3 linked regions of the Homo sapiens genome follow. The protein of the gene in region 3 purifies or fractionates together with the protein of the main gene of each other region. This does not show direct contact. Each region holds a gene or a part of one and is shown on either strand. Other genes may lie near its edges. The genes, in order: SNTB2, SNAP29 and LURAP1L.

Region 1 (3,751 bases), on a different chromosome or scaffold from region 3:
TTTGGACACACACCCAAACCACAATCTATAATTTTACTCCTTCTATTAACACTAATTTCCGAGCAATGTCTAGCCCCACCTAGACATGCAATATAAATAAGGTTTATAAATAGGATATTATAAAGGTGGGACACTGGAACTTCACAACTGGTGTACATGAAATCATTTCTGGTAAATCAGTATTTTTCCAAATATTCACAAGCTGATTTATAAGAAAGTGAAAATCCATTGTGCCAAGTTGGACTTCTGGCCTCTCGGTTTGACGATTGGTCCTTCTTCACCAGCAGCCCCCAGCCCTTCCCTTCTGTCCTTCCTCTGCCAGGAATACCCTCCTGACTCATCCCTGCCTGCCTATGTCCATCACTTCTTGGAGACCTGGCTCAAGATTCAGCTTCGGGAAAAAGTCCTCCCTGGCTAATTCCATCTCCACTAACTATTTTCTAACTTTGCATTCCTTTGGCATTTAAGTATAGTTTCACGACGTAATCACCAACTTCATTCCTTTCCTCCCTATAAGTTGTTTTGCATTTTTCTATCATTTCTCCAACTAGAGACCAAGTAGGGACAGCATCTTCTTTTATATTCTTTTCAACACAGCTAGCCATAATCACCAGTGAAAGAAAGCTGACCGCTCAAAAATTTCTGAAGAAAGCAGCTGACTTTTCGTTTATAATTTACAATACTCTATCACCTCCAACATGCATGAGTCCTTAGAGGAGAGGAATTTTATTTTTGCCTTAGTTCAAATTCATCATGAAAGATCCAACTTACAGATCACATACATATAACTTAACGTAAAGAATAATCCTGGTTATTGAAACCTATCTTGTGATTTGCCATTTCAAGTTTCTTACAAAAACCCCAAGAGTCTTGAAGCAGCGCGCCTGTGAGTGGTAGGAAGCTGGCAGCAGACTTGCAAAAGGGGCAAAACTCTAGTTGGCAGTAAATGTTCAAACACGTGAGCCTCCACTGTTAAACAAGGTTCGTTAACCACACAGACTTGCTGTTTCAGCTTTCTGGCTTCAATGAAATGCTATGATCTCCTTTGGTTATTGTTGAGAGCCAATGATGGGTTAAATTCCCATAAATTAACCAGCGCTTTGGTGGTTTGCCCGAGCATACCGCTGGCATCGGTGAAGATGGACTTTTTTTTTTTTTTAATAGACCCGCCCGCCCCGAGGAGCCAGAGGTGAGTGAGTTAAGCGCCAACCCGGCACTTCTCAGCGGGCAAACGGAGACAGACCCACTCGAGCCGTTCGCTCTCCCTCAAGTTCTTAGTGTCAGCTTATCGGGCCGAGGTGGGGCTTCATAGGCAGCTGCTTTTTACTCAATCTCAGCCGAGTCTTCCCTAGGGGCTGCAAGCCACACTTCGGCGGCTGCCCAACTTTTCCTGCAAGAAGCATCCGTTTTTCCACACTGAAAGCTCCAGAAACCCGGGTTTGGAGAGAGACGGGGAGAGAACCGGCTCGCCCCGCCGGCGGGGCAGGAACAAAGTGAGCTCCCGCGAGCCCAGGCCGCCGCGGCCTGCCCACCCTCCCGCCCGGCCCCGCTCACCCTCCAGCAGCACCTCCTTGCCCGCGCGCTTCAGCGCCTGCACGGCCTGGTCGTGGGTGGCCTGGCGCAGGTCGGTGCCGTTCACCGACAGGATGGCGTCGCCCAGCCGCAGCGCCCGGCTCTGGTCGGCAGCCAGCCCGGGGAAGATCTTGGAGATGAGGATCGGCATCCGGTTCTCGCGGCCGCCCTTGATGCTGATGCCCAGGCCGCCCGCCTCTTGCTTCACCACCCGCACCCGGCGCACGGGCGGCGACGCGCCCGCCTCACCCGCGGGGCCCCGAGGCGGCGCCGGCGGGCTCGGGGGCCCCAGGCCGCGGCTTGGGCTCCCGGGCAGCGAGTCGCCCGCGCCGCCGCCGTTTGGGAGGCCGTTGAAGGCGGCGGCCGCGGGTCCCAGAGCGGGCTCCAGCTCGGCCGCGGCGGCGTCGCCCGTCAGGCTCAGGCTCTCCCCGCTCAGCTCGGCCACCACTCGGACCCAGCGCTCCCTCAGGAGCAGCTCCACCAGCCCCGCTTTGGTGGCCCGCGTCCACACCGCCATGGCCGGCCCCGCTCCAGCCGCCGCAGTCGCCGCAGCTACCCTCATTCCAGTCAGGCAGCCTCGGCGCTTCCCTCTTCCCGCCCGGAGGGGCGGGCCCGGCCCCTCCCCCGCACGATTCATTATTCATGAGGCCACGCCTGCCTCTGGAGGGGCGGGGCCGGCGCAGCCGCTTCCGGGAGGTGCAGAAGTTGTCCGATCACTCGCCTCTCGCCGGACGTGGGCAACCCGAATGCGGTGGGACTGCATTTCTCCTCATCCTTCCATTGGCTCCCCACGGACCCCCCAGAAACTCCTGACCTCTACCGTGCAATTCACGGGAGCTGCCCGGGCACGGAAAGCAAAATCAGCTTGGAGAAACACTTCTCAAGCCTGCAAGACCCGGTGGCACGTTCATTCTTGCATTGATTGGTTCGTACCCTGTGTACTGAGCGCTTAGCCCTGTACTCCGGCTCCTTTTGAGGCCCTGTACTTAAGCTCAATAGTACCAACAACAGCTGAGAGTTTGCGGTCTAGTGGGGAAGGAAAATGCAGAACCAACCAACTAGGTGTGATACTATGTGGTTAAGTGACATGCAGAAGACGTCCCCAGAACAGCATAAAAGGAACATTTGGTTAGGCCTGGGGTCAGCTTCACAGAGGTAACAACGGACGGTGAACAGCTCAAGCAAAGGTCCAACAGCATGATCCAAGCCTTTGTCAATGTTTTGTAATCTCGTTTACTTGCCTGTAATTCAAGAGGGAACCATGTCTTCTTAAACCCTGAAGCCACAATTGGCAGGCCTCAAGGATATTTGCAGAATGATGGTGTCTTAGGGTTCTTCAGAGAAACCAACCAATAGGATATATAGAGATATATAAATTTATTATTATTACAAGGGACTGGCCACGAGATTATGGATGCTGAGAAGTCCCACGATCTGCCATCTGCAAACTGCAGGCCCAGGAAAGTTGGTGGTGCACTTCCAATCCAAGCCCAAAGGCCTGAGACCCAGAATCAGTGGTATAAACCTGAGATTGAAAGTCTGGGCCGGGCGCGGTGGCTCAAGCCTTTAATCCCAGCACTTTGAGAGGCTGAGGTGGGCGGATCACCTGAGGTCACGAGTTTGAGACAAGCCTGACCAACATGGAGAAACCCCATCTCTACTAAAAATACAAAAAATTAGCCGGGCGTGGTGGCACATGCCTGTAATCCCAGCTACTTGGGAGGCTGAGGCAGGAGAATTGCTTGAACCTGGGAGGCAGAGATTGCGGTGAGCTGAGATGGCACCATTGCACTCCAGCCTGGGCAACAAGAGCAAAACTCTGCCTCAAAAAAAAAAAAAAAAAAAGAAAGAAAGAAAGAAAGAAAAAGAAAGTCTGGGCCGGGTGCAGTGGCTTACACCTGTAATCCCAGCACTTTGGGAGGCCAAGGCGGTGGATCACCTGGGGTCAAGAGTTATAGACCAGTCTGGCCAACATGGTGAAACCCCGTCTCTACTAAAAATACAAAAAATTAGCCAGGTGTGGTGGCAGGCGCCTGCAATCCCAGCTACTCAGGAGGCTGAGGCAGGAGAATCGCTTGAATCCGGGAGGCAGAGGTTGCAGTGAGCCAAGATTGCACCACTGCACTCCAGCCTGGGCAACAAGAGCAAAACTCCATCTCCAAAAAAAAAAAAAAAGTCT
Region 2 (3,651 bases), on a different chromosome or scaffold from region 3:
TCCTTGGGACAATGTGGCAGCTGTGAGTGGATGTGCCCAGGAAGGAGAAGCCAGAAGCTCGAACAACCAGCCCATCCTCAGAAGGCATCCTGTTACAGCCAACAAGCCAGCAAATTGGCCTGGGATCAATGGTCTAATTCTTTTTTTTTTTTGAGACAGGGTCTCACTTTGTCACCCAGGCTGGAATACAGTGGCATGACCTCAGCTCACTGCAGCCTTGACCTCCCTGGTTCAAGAGATCCTCCTACCTCAGCCTTCTGAGTAGCTGGAACTACAGGCATGCACCGCCATGCCCAGGTAATTTTTGTATTTTTTGTAGAGCCAGGGTTTTACCACATTCCCCAGGCTGATCTTGAACTCCTGGGTTCAAGGGATCCACCTGCCTCAGCCTCCCCAAGTGCTAGGATTACAGGTGTGAGCCACCACACCTGGCCATCAATGGTCAAATTCAATCATTGATAGTTTACCAAAAATTAATTAAAAATAAATCCCGAACAGACCTAGCGGTGAGTATGTGGTCCAATGCCATTTCTCCACCAGACTCCCTCCCACCTGCTAGACACAGCCTGACATGTGTTGGGATGCATTTTCTGGTCACAGGACAGGCATTGCAACCAAGGCACACAGCTCAATGCATTCTTTCCACCCAACTCTCTCCTCCTTTTTCAGGCAATCTTCTGTTCCCTCCCTCCTTCCTTTCCTTCCCCAGGTCACTTATTCATTTGGCAACTATTTTGGGAGCGCCAATAACGCTTAAGGACATTGTGCTGAGAAGCGTGGGGGTAGAAAGTTGAGCAAGAGATGGGTAAGAGACTGCTCCTCTTCCACTGCTGACATTTACAAATTTGAGGAATTACTTAATCTAGCAGCTGCTTGTCCCCATCCATCAACTTTTGCTAAGAACTCTGGCTGCATCAGTATCACCACACGCTGCCTCAGAGGGGTGACTTTGGTCTGTACGGCCCCTCATTTGGAGTGGGCTGCTCCAAGACCAGAATCCCTGAGAATGAGGATATCACCTTTTGGCAATGTATCTACTCTAAGTTCCGGGGACACCTTGATGGCCTCTGCTCCTGGGCCAGGAGGGGTGTCCTCCTCTCTCCCACCTCTGAATGGAATGCCCAGTGTGGGTGACTGTTGTGTGCTGGAAAGACACAGAGATGGGTGGGCCCCTGCACGAGACGGTGTGGAGGATGTGCTGGCGGTGGCTGCTGAGTGCATCACGTTTGAACTCTCAAACTCTGTCCCTTTCCATTGATGTTACTGTGCCAGCCGTTCCAACCCTGGTCTAATGTTTGTTGCTGGACTCCCCTGAACCGAGATCTCGGGCCCCAGAAAACCTCAGTGGAGTTAAGTTCAGCTACAAGAGGGGAAGCAGAGTGTCCTGGGCAGGTGAGTCTCCTCCACTGGAGTGATGAAAAGGTGTACAAAAACCATGTCCAAGTAGGATGCAAATAGACTCACCAAAAGGTGTAAACAACCTCAATGCTCATCATTAGGGGACAGGCTGCATAAATAGAAGTCATTTGTTCAATGGAATACAACACAGCCAAAAAGAAAGCCCAGCTCATTACATACTAGTGTGGAACAAACTCCATTCTATTAAGCACATGCAGACCAGAATGTATACAATACTTCACTTAAAAAAAAAAACCCATTTTTATCCACGGCATTATCTCCCCAAAACACTGAAGGAGGGAAAGTGCCTGGCTGCCTTAGGGGCAGAGGGATGATAGGGAGGGAAGTGGGAGAAGACTACACCCTTTTGTATGTTTTGAAATTTTGAACCATGTGATTGGAATCTCTCTTCATAAAAATTAAACCTTAGGAAAAAAAAAAGAAGAAATCATGCTTACTAAACAGGGAAAGAGACGAGTGGCTTACAAGTCTCCCTGTAGTTCTACAAAGCGCCTACCAGGTCGGCCTGGGGAAACCGCCCTGCTCCCACTACTTCTCCTCTGTTCTTTTGTGGTCATAGCCTGTGGCCTGAGCCTTTGTGAGAAACAATCCTTGCCAGGTTTCACAGTAGGAGAAGGGCAGCTCTCTTTGCTAGAGGTGACTTAACTAAGCCATTTTCCTGCCAAGCTGGGACTGAATTATAATCTTCCCAACCTAATATAATTTGTAAAGTCCTCATCTTTGACATAAATCTGTCATGTGTTGGCATGTTTCACAGTGCTGGGGTAACCAGGCACCTAAGTTGGGTGATTAGCAGGGTATGCTGGAATTTGCTGGAAGCCACACTGTGCACTGAGGGTTGGAAGAGCTCATACTCCTCTGTTCCCATCCCAACACCAAAGGGAATGAAAGAGTGATTAGAGTGATTCAAAGACAGCTTGGAGCCTGTAATCCAGCACTGGGAGGCCAAGGTGTGCAGATCATCTGAGCTCAGGAATTCGAGACTAGCCTGGGTAACATGGCGAAAGCCCATCTCCACCAAAAATACCAAAAATTAGTCGAGTGTGGTGGCGTGCACCTGTAGTCTTGGCTACTTGGGAGGCTGTGGCAGGAGGATCACTTGCACCTGGAGGCAGAGGCTGCAGTGAGCCAAGATTGCACCACGGCACTCTAGCCTGGTTGACAGAGTGAGACCCCCATCTCAAAAAACCTCCCCCAAAACAAAACACAAAAACAAAGACAGCTTGGAGAACACTGGGTGTGGTGGAGATGTAGGTCATCCCTGACTCCCAGGGCTTCTCATAATTGAGAACTGACCCAATCCTGGAAAATTCCAACATGTTGTCTCACTGACAAGAGCACCTGTCACCTGCCCAGTCATGACCACACTGTACTTCTCACAGCAATGCCTGGCCTGGCCAAGCCTGATATGCCTGAAGTGCCACTCTGCCTCAGCTCTCACTGTCCCCACTGCATAGAAAGACCTTTGGGGGCAGCACGGGGCATGTCATCACAATCTATATCAAACTCACCACTATTACATTTTTGCCTCTCCTGCGCTATGAGACCAGAACTTTCCCTATGACCTCCAAGGGCTCCTAAGCTACCTCCTCCATCCCCTGTCCTCTAACACACCCAGTCTATCATGTCCCTCCTCTGGACCCAGGAGCTCTGTTGCTGGGCCAGTGCATTTGCATATTTTCCTGTCTTCCCTAAGAACATCCCTCATTCTCACTCCTCTTGTGTAAACCTCAGCCTTAAAAGCTAGATTCAAGTTTATCCTCTGCCACAATGCCCTACTTTGAATCATTGATTCCCTACTTCATTTGTTCTCAGTTTACAAAGATGTCTCCTTAAATAGTTGTTAGTTGAATTCCTTGGGCTTGAGATCCTCAATCATGTGACCCATTCACCAGGGCCCTAAAACCTCAGGCAATCCTCTCAAATCTAAGCCAAGACTTCCCATTTAGAATGGAACATAGGAATCCAGTAGGTATGAGATGTAAGAACTACAGGCAAAACCTCCCTAACAAGGTTAGGACCGGGCGCAGTGGCTCACATCTGTAATCCCAGCACTTTGGGAGGCTGAGGTGGGCAGATCACCTAAGGTCAGGCGTTTGAGACCAGCCTGCCCAACATGGCGAAACCTGTCTCTACTAAAAATACAAAAATCAGAGGCCAGGTGTGGTCGCTCACGCCTGTAATCCCAACACTTTGGGAGGCCAAGGCAGGTGGATCATGAGGTCAGGAGTT
Region 3 (3,651 bases):
CAGGCAGTACTTGCCATGGGCCTAGGGCAGTGGTGGCCATGAGGAGAAACTCCTTCTGCTTGAGGAAATAAGAGAGGAGAGTAAAAAAGACTTTGACTCAGAATTTGGGTATCAGCTCAGCTACCAAGTAGCTTTACCAAGTAAAATAAAGCACCAAGTAGATTCTAGATTCCTAAAGTTCCCGACTCCAGACCCTCCCTCCCAGACAGCATTTCTACACCCACCCTGGGCCAGAAGGGAACTCACCACCTTGAAGGGAAAAATACAAGTTTAGAATGATTCACCACCTGCTGACTAAAGAGCCCTTGGGCCTTAAATAAACATCAGTGGTGACCAGGCAATAGTTGCCACAGGCCTCGGGTGACATCAAGTACTGTGTTGGCTTTAGGTCTGACTCAGCACAGTTGCAGTAGTGGTGGCCACAGAGGTGCTCGTGTCACCCCTCCTCCAATTCTAGGAAGCTCAGCACAGAGAGAAACTTGTTTGTTTGGGGTAAAGTAAGAGAACAAGAGTCTCTATTTGGTAATCCAGGGAATTCTGTCATATAGTACCCCACACCACCAAAGTGCTACCTCTGTTAGTCTGCAAGAGTCATACTATTATTGGGCTTGGGCAGATATGGCTGCAATAGGCAAATACTTAGATCTGAACACTCAATTTTCTTTAAATACTTCTTTAAAGCCTTCCCAAGAAGGGCAGGTACAAGCAAGCCCAGACTATGAAGACTACAATAAATACCTCACTTGTCAACACCCAGACATTGATGAACACTCAAAAGCATCAAGATCATTTAGGAAAACATGACCTCACCAAATGAACTAAATAAGGGCACCAGTAACCAATCCCAGAGTGACAGAGATATGTGACCTCTCAGACAGATAACTCAAAATAGCTGGTTTGGGAAGCTAAACAAATCAAGATAACAGAGAGAAAGAATTCAGAATCCTATCCATAATGAAAATGTAAAATGAAATGTAAATTAGATTGAAATAATTTTTAAAAATCAAGCTGAAATTCTGGAGCTAAACAATTGAATTGACATACTGAAGAATGCATTCGAGTCTCTCAACAGAACTGATCAAGGAGAAGAAAGAATTAGTGAGCTTGAAGACATGCTAATTGAAAATATACAGTGAGGGAGACAAAATAAAAGAATAAAAAAGAATGAAGCATGCAAAATTATTAAAAAAAAAAAAAAAGCCCAGGACCTCATAGCTTCATTGCTGAATTTTACCAAACATTTAAAGAAGAACAATCCTACCCAAACTATTCCAAAAAACAGAGGAGAGAATACTTCTAAACTCAGTCTATTAGGCCAGTATTACCCTGATATCAAAATCAAGCAAAGACGTATCAAAAAAAGAGAAAGTATAGGCCAATATCACTGATAAACATTGATGCAAAAATCCAAAACAAAATAATAGTGAACCTAATTCAACAACACATTAAGATAATCATTCATCATGACCAAGTGGAATTTATCCCAGGGATGCAAGGACTGTTCAACATATGCAAATCCACCAATGTGATACATCATATCAATAGAATGAAGGAATAAACCATATGATAATTTCAGTTGATACTGGAAAAGCATTTGATAAAATTTGGCATCTCTTTATGATAAAAACTCAAAAAACTGGGTATAGAAAGAATCTACCACTGCACAATAAAAGCCATATAAACAGACCTACAGCTGGTATCATACTGAAAGAGGGAAAACTGAAAGGCTTTCCTCTAAGGTCTGGAAATAAGGAGGATGCCCACTTCATCACTGTTTATCAGCATAGTACTGGAAGTCCTAGATAGAGCAATCAGACAAGAAAAAGAAATAAAGGGCATCCAAATTGGGAAGAAAAAAAGTCAAATTATTCTTATTTGCAAATGATATAATCTTACATATGGAAAAACCTGAAGACTCCACCAAGAAATCATTAGAACTGATAAGTTGAGTAAAGTTGTAGGATACAAAATTAACATAAAAATCAGTAGCATTTCTATATGCCAACGGCAAACAATCTGAAAAAGCAATCAAGAAGTAATCCCATTTAAAATAACTGCAAATAAAATTAAATACCTAGGATTTAACTAAAGAAGTAAAAGATCTCTACAATGAATACTATAAAATACCGATGCAAGAAATTGAATAAGACACAAAAAGATGAAAAGATATTCCATGTTCATGGATTGGAAGATCAACATTTTTTAAATGTTCATACTACTCAAAGCAATCTACAGATTCAATGTAATCCTTATCAAAATACCAGTAACATTCCTCACAGAAATAGAAAAAAGATCCTAAAATTTATATGGGATCAGAAAAGAACCTGAATAGCCAAAGTCATCCAGAGCAAAAAGAACAAAACTGACTTCAAATTATACTACAGAGTTATAGTAACCAAAACAGCATGATACTGGCATAAAAACAGACACACTGAGCAATGGAACAAAATGGAGAACTGACAAACAAATTCACATACCTACAGTGAACTCATTTTTCACAAAGATGCCAAGAACATACACTGGAGAAAAGATAGTCTCTTCAATAAATGGTACTGCCAAAACTACATATCCATATGCAGAAGAATGAAACTAGACCCCTATCTCTTGCCATATACAAAATCTAATCAAAGACTTACATCTAAAACATAAAAGTACCAAAAGAAGACATTGGGGAAACTCTCTATAACATTGCTCTGGACAAGGACTTCTTGAGGAATATCCCATAAGCATAGGCAACCGAAGCAAAAATGGAAAAATGGGATCACATCAAGTTAAAAACTTCTGCACAGCAAAGGAAACAACCAACAAAGTGGAGAGACAACCCATGAAATGGGAGAAAATATTTGCAAACTACCCATCTGACAAGGAATTAACTGGCAGAATACATAAGTAGCTCAAACAACTCAGTAGGAAAAATGTCTAATAATCTGATTAAAAAATAGACAAAAGATCTGAATAGACATTTCTCAAAAGACATCCAAATGACAATCAGGTATATTCAAAAGTGCTCAACATAATTGATCACCAGAGAAATGCAAATCAAAACTACAATGAAATATTATCTCACCCCAGTTATAATGGCTTTTATCCAAACAACAAACAATAATTAATGCCGGTGAGGATATGGACAAAAGGGAACCCTTGTACACTGTTGGTGGGAATGTACATTAGCATAGCCACTATGGAGAACAGTTTCGAGATTCCTTAAAAAAATAAAATTAGAACTAATATATAATCCAGCAATCCCACTACTAGGTATATACTCAGGAGAAAGGAAATCAATATATCAAATAGATATCTTCACTCCTGTGTCTATTGCAGCACTATTCACAATAGCTAAGATTTACAAGCAACCTGTGTCCATCAAGAGACAAACGGATAAAGAAAATGTTGTACGTACGCACAATAGAGTACTAATCAGCCAGAAGAAAAGAATTAGAATCTGTCATTTGCAACAACATGGATGGAAGTGGAGGATTTCGTGACAAGTGAAATAAGTCAGGCACAGAAAGACAAACTTGGCGTGGTCTCACTTATTCGTGGGAGCTAAAAATGAAAACAGTTGAACTCATGGAGCTAGGAAGTAGAATGATGGTTACCAGAGGCTGGGAAGGGGTAGCGAGCTGGGGGGAAGTGGAATGGTTAATGGAT

What was found.
Region 1: the proteins of LURAP1L (region 3) and SNTB2 purify together in Homo sapiens (affinity purification with mass spectrometry; 3 studies listed by BioGRID and IntAct, with this or other methods). This does not show direct contact.
Region 2: the proteins of LURAP1L (region 3) and SNAP29 purify together in Homo sapiens (affinity purification with mass spectrometry; 2 studies listed by BioGRID and IntAct, with this or other methods). This does not show direct contact.

The regions. Positions count from the first base shown.
Region 1 is NC_000016.10:69,185,550-69,189,300, reverse strand, and holds the start of SNTB2 (beta-2-syntrophin), read right to left. Parts: upstream 2,138-3,751; 5' UTR 2,135-2,137; coding exon 1,555-2,134; intron 1-1,554. UniProt on the Homo sapiens protein: Adapter protein that binds to and probably organizes the subcellular localization of a variety of membrane proteins. May link various receptors to the actin cytoskeleton and the dystrophin glycoprotein complex.
Region 2 is NC_000022.11:20,861,856-20,865,506, reverse strand, and holds part of SNAP29 (synaptosomal-associated protein 29), read right to left. Parts: intron 1-3,651. UniProt on the Homo sapiens protein: SNAREs, soluble N-ethylmaleimide-sensitive factor-attachment protein receptors, are essential proteins for fusion of cellular membranes.
Region 3 is NC_000009.12:12,781,376-12,785,026, reverse strand, and holds part of LURAP1L (leucine rich adaptor protein 1-like), read right to left. Parts: intron 1-3,651.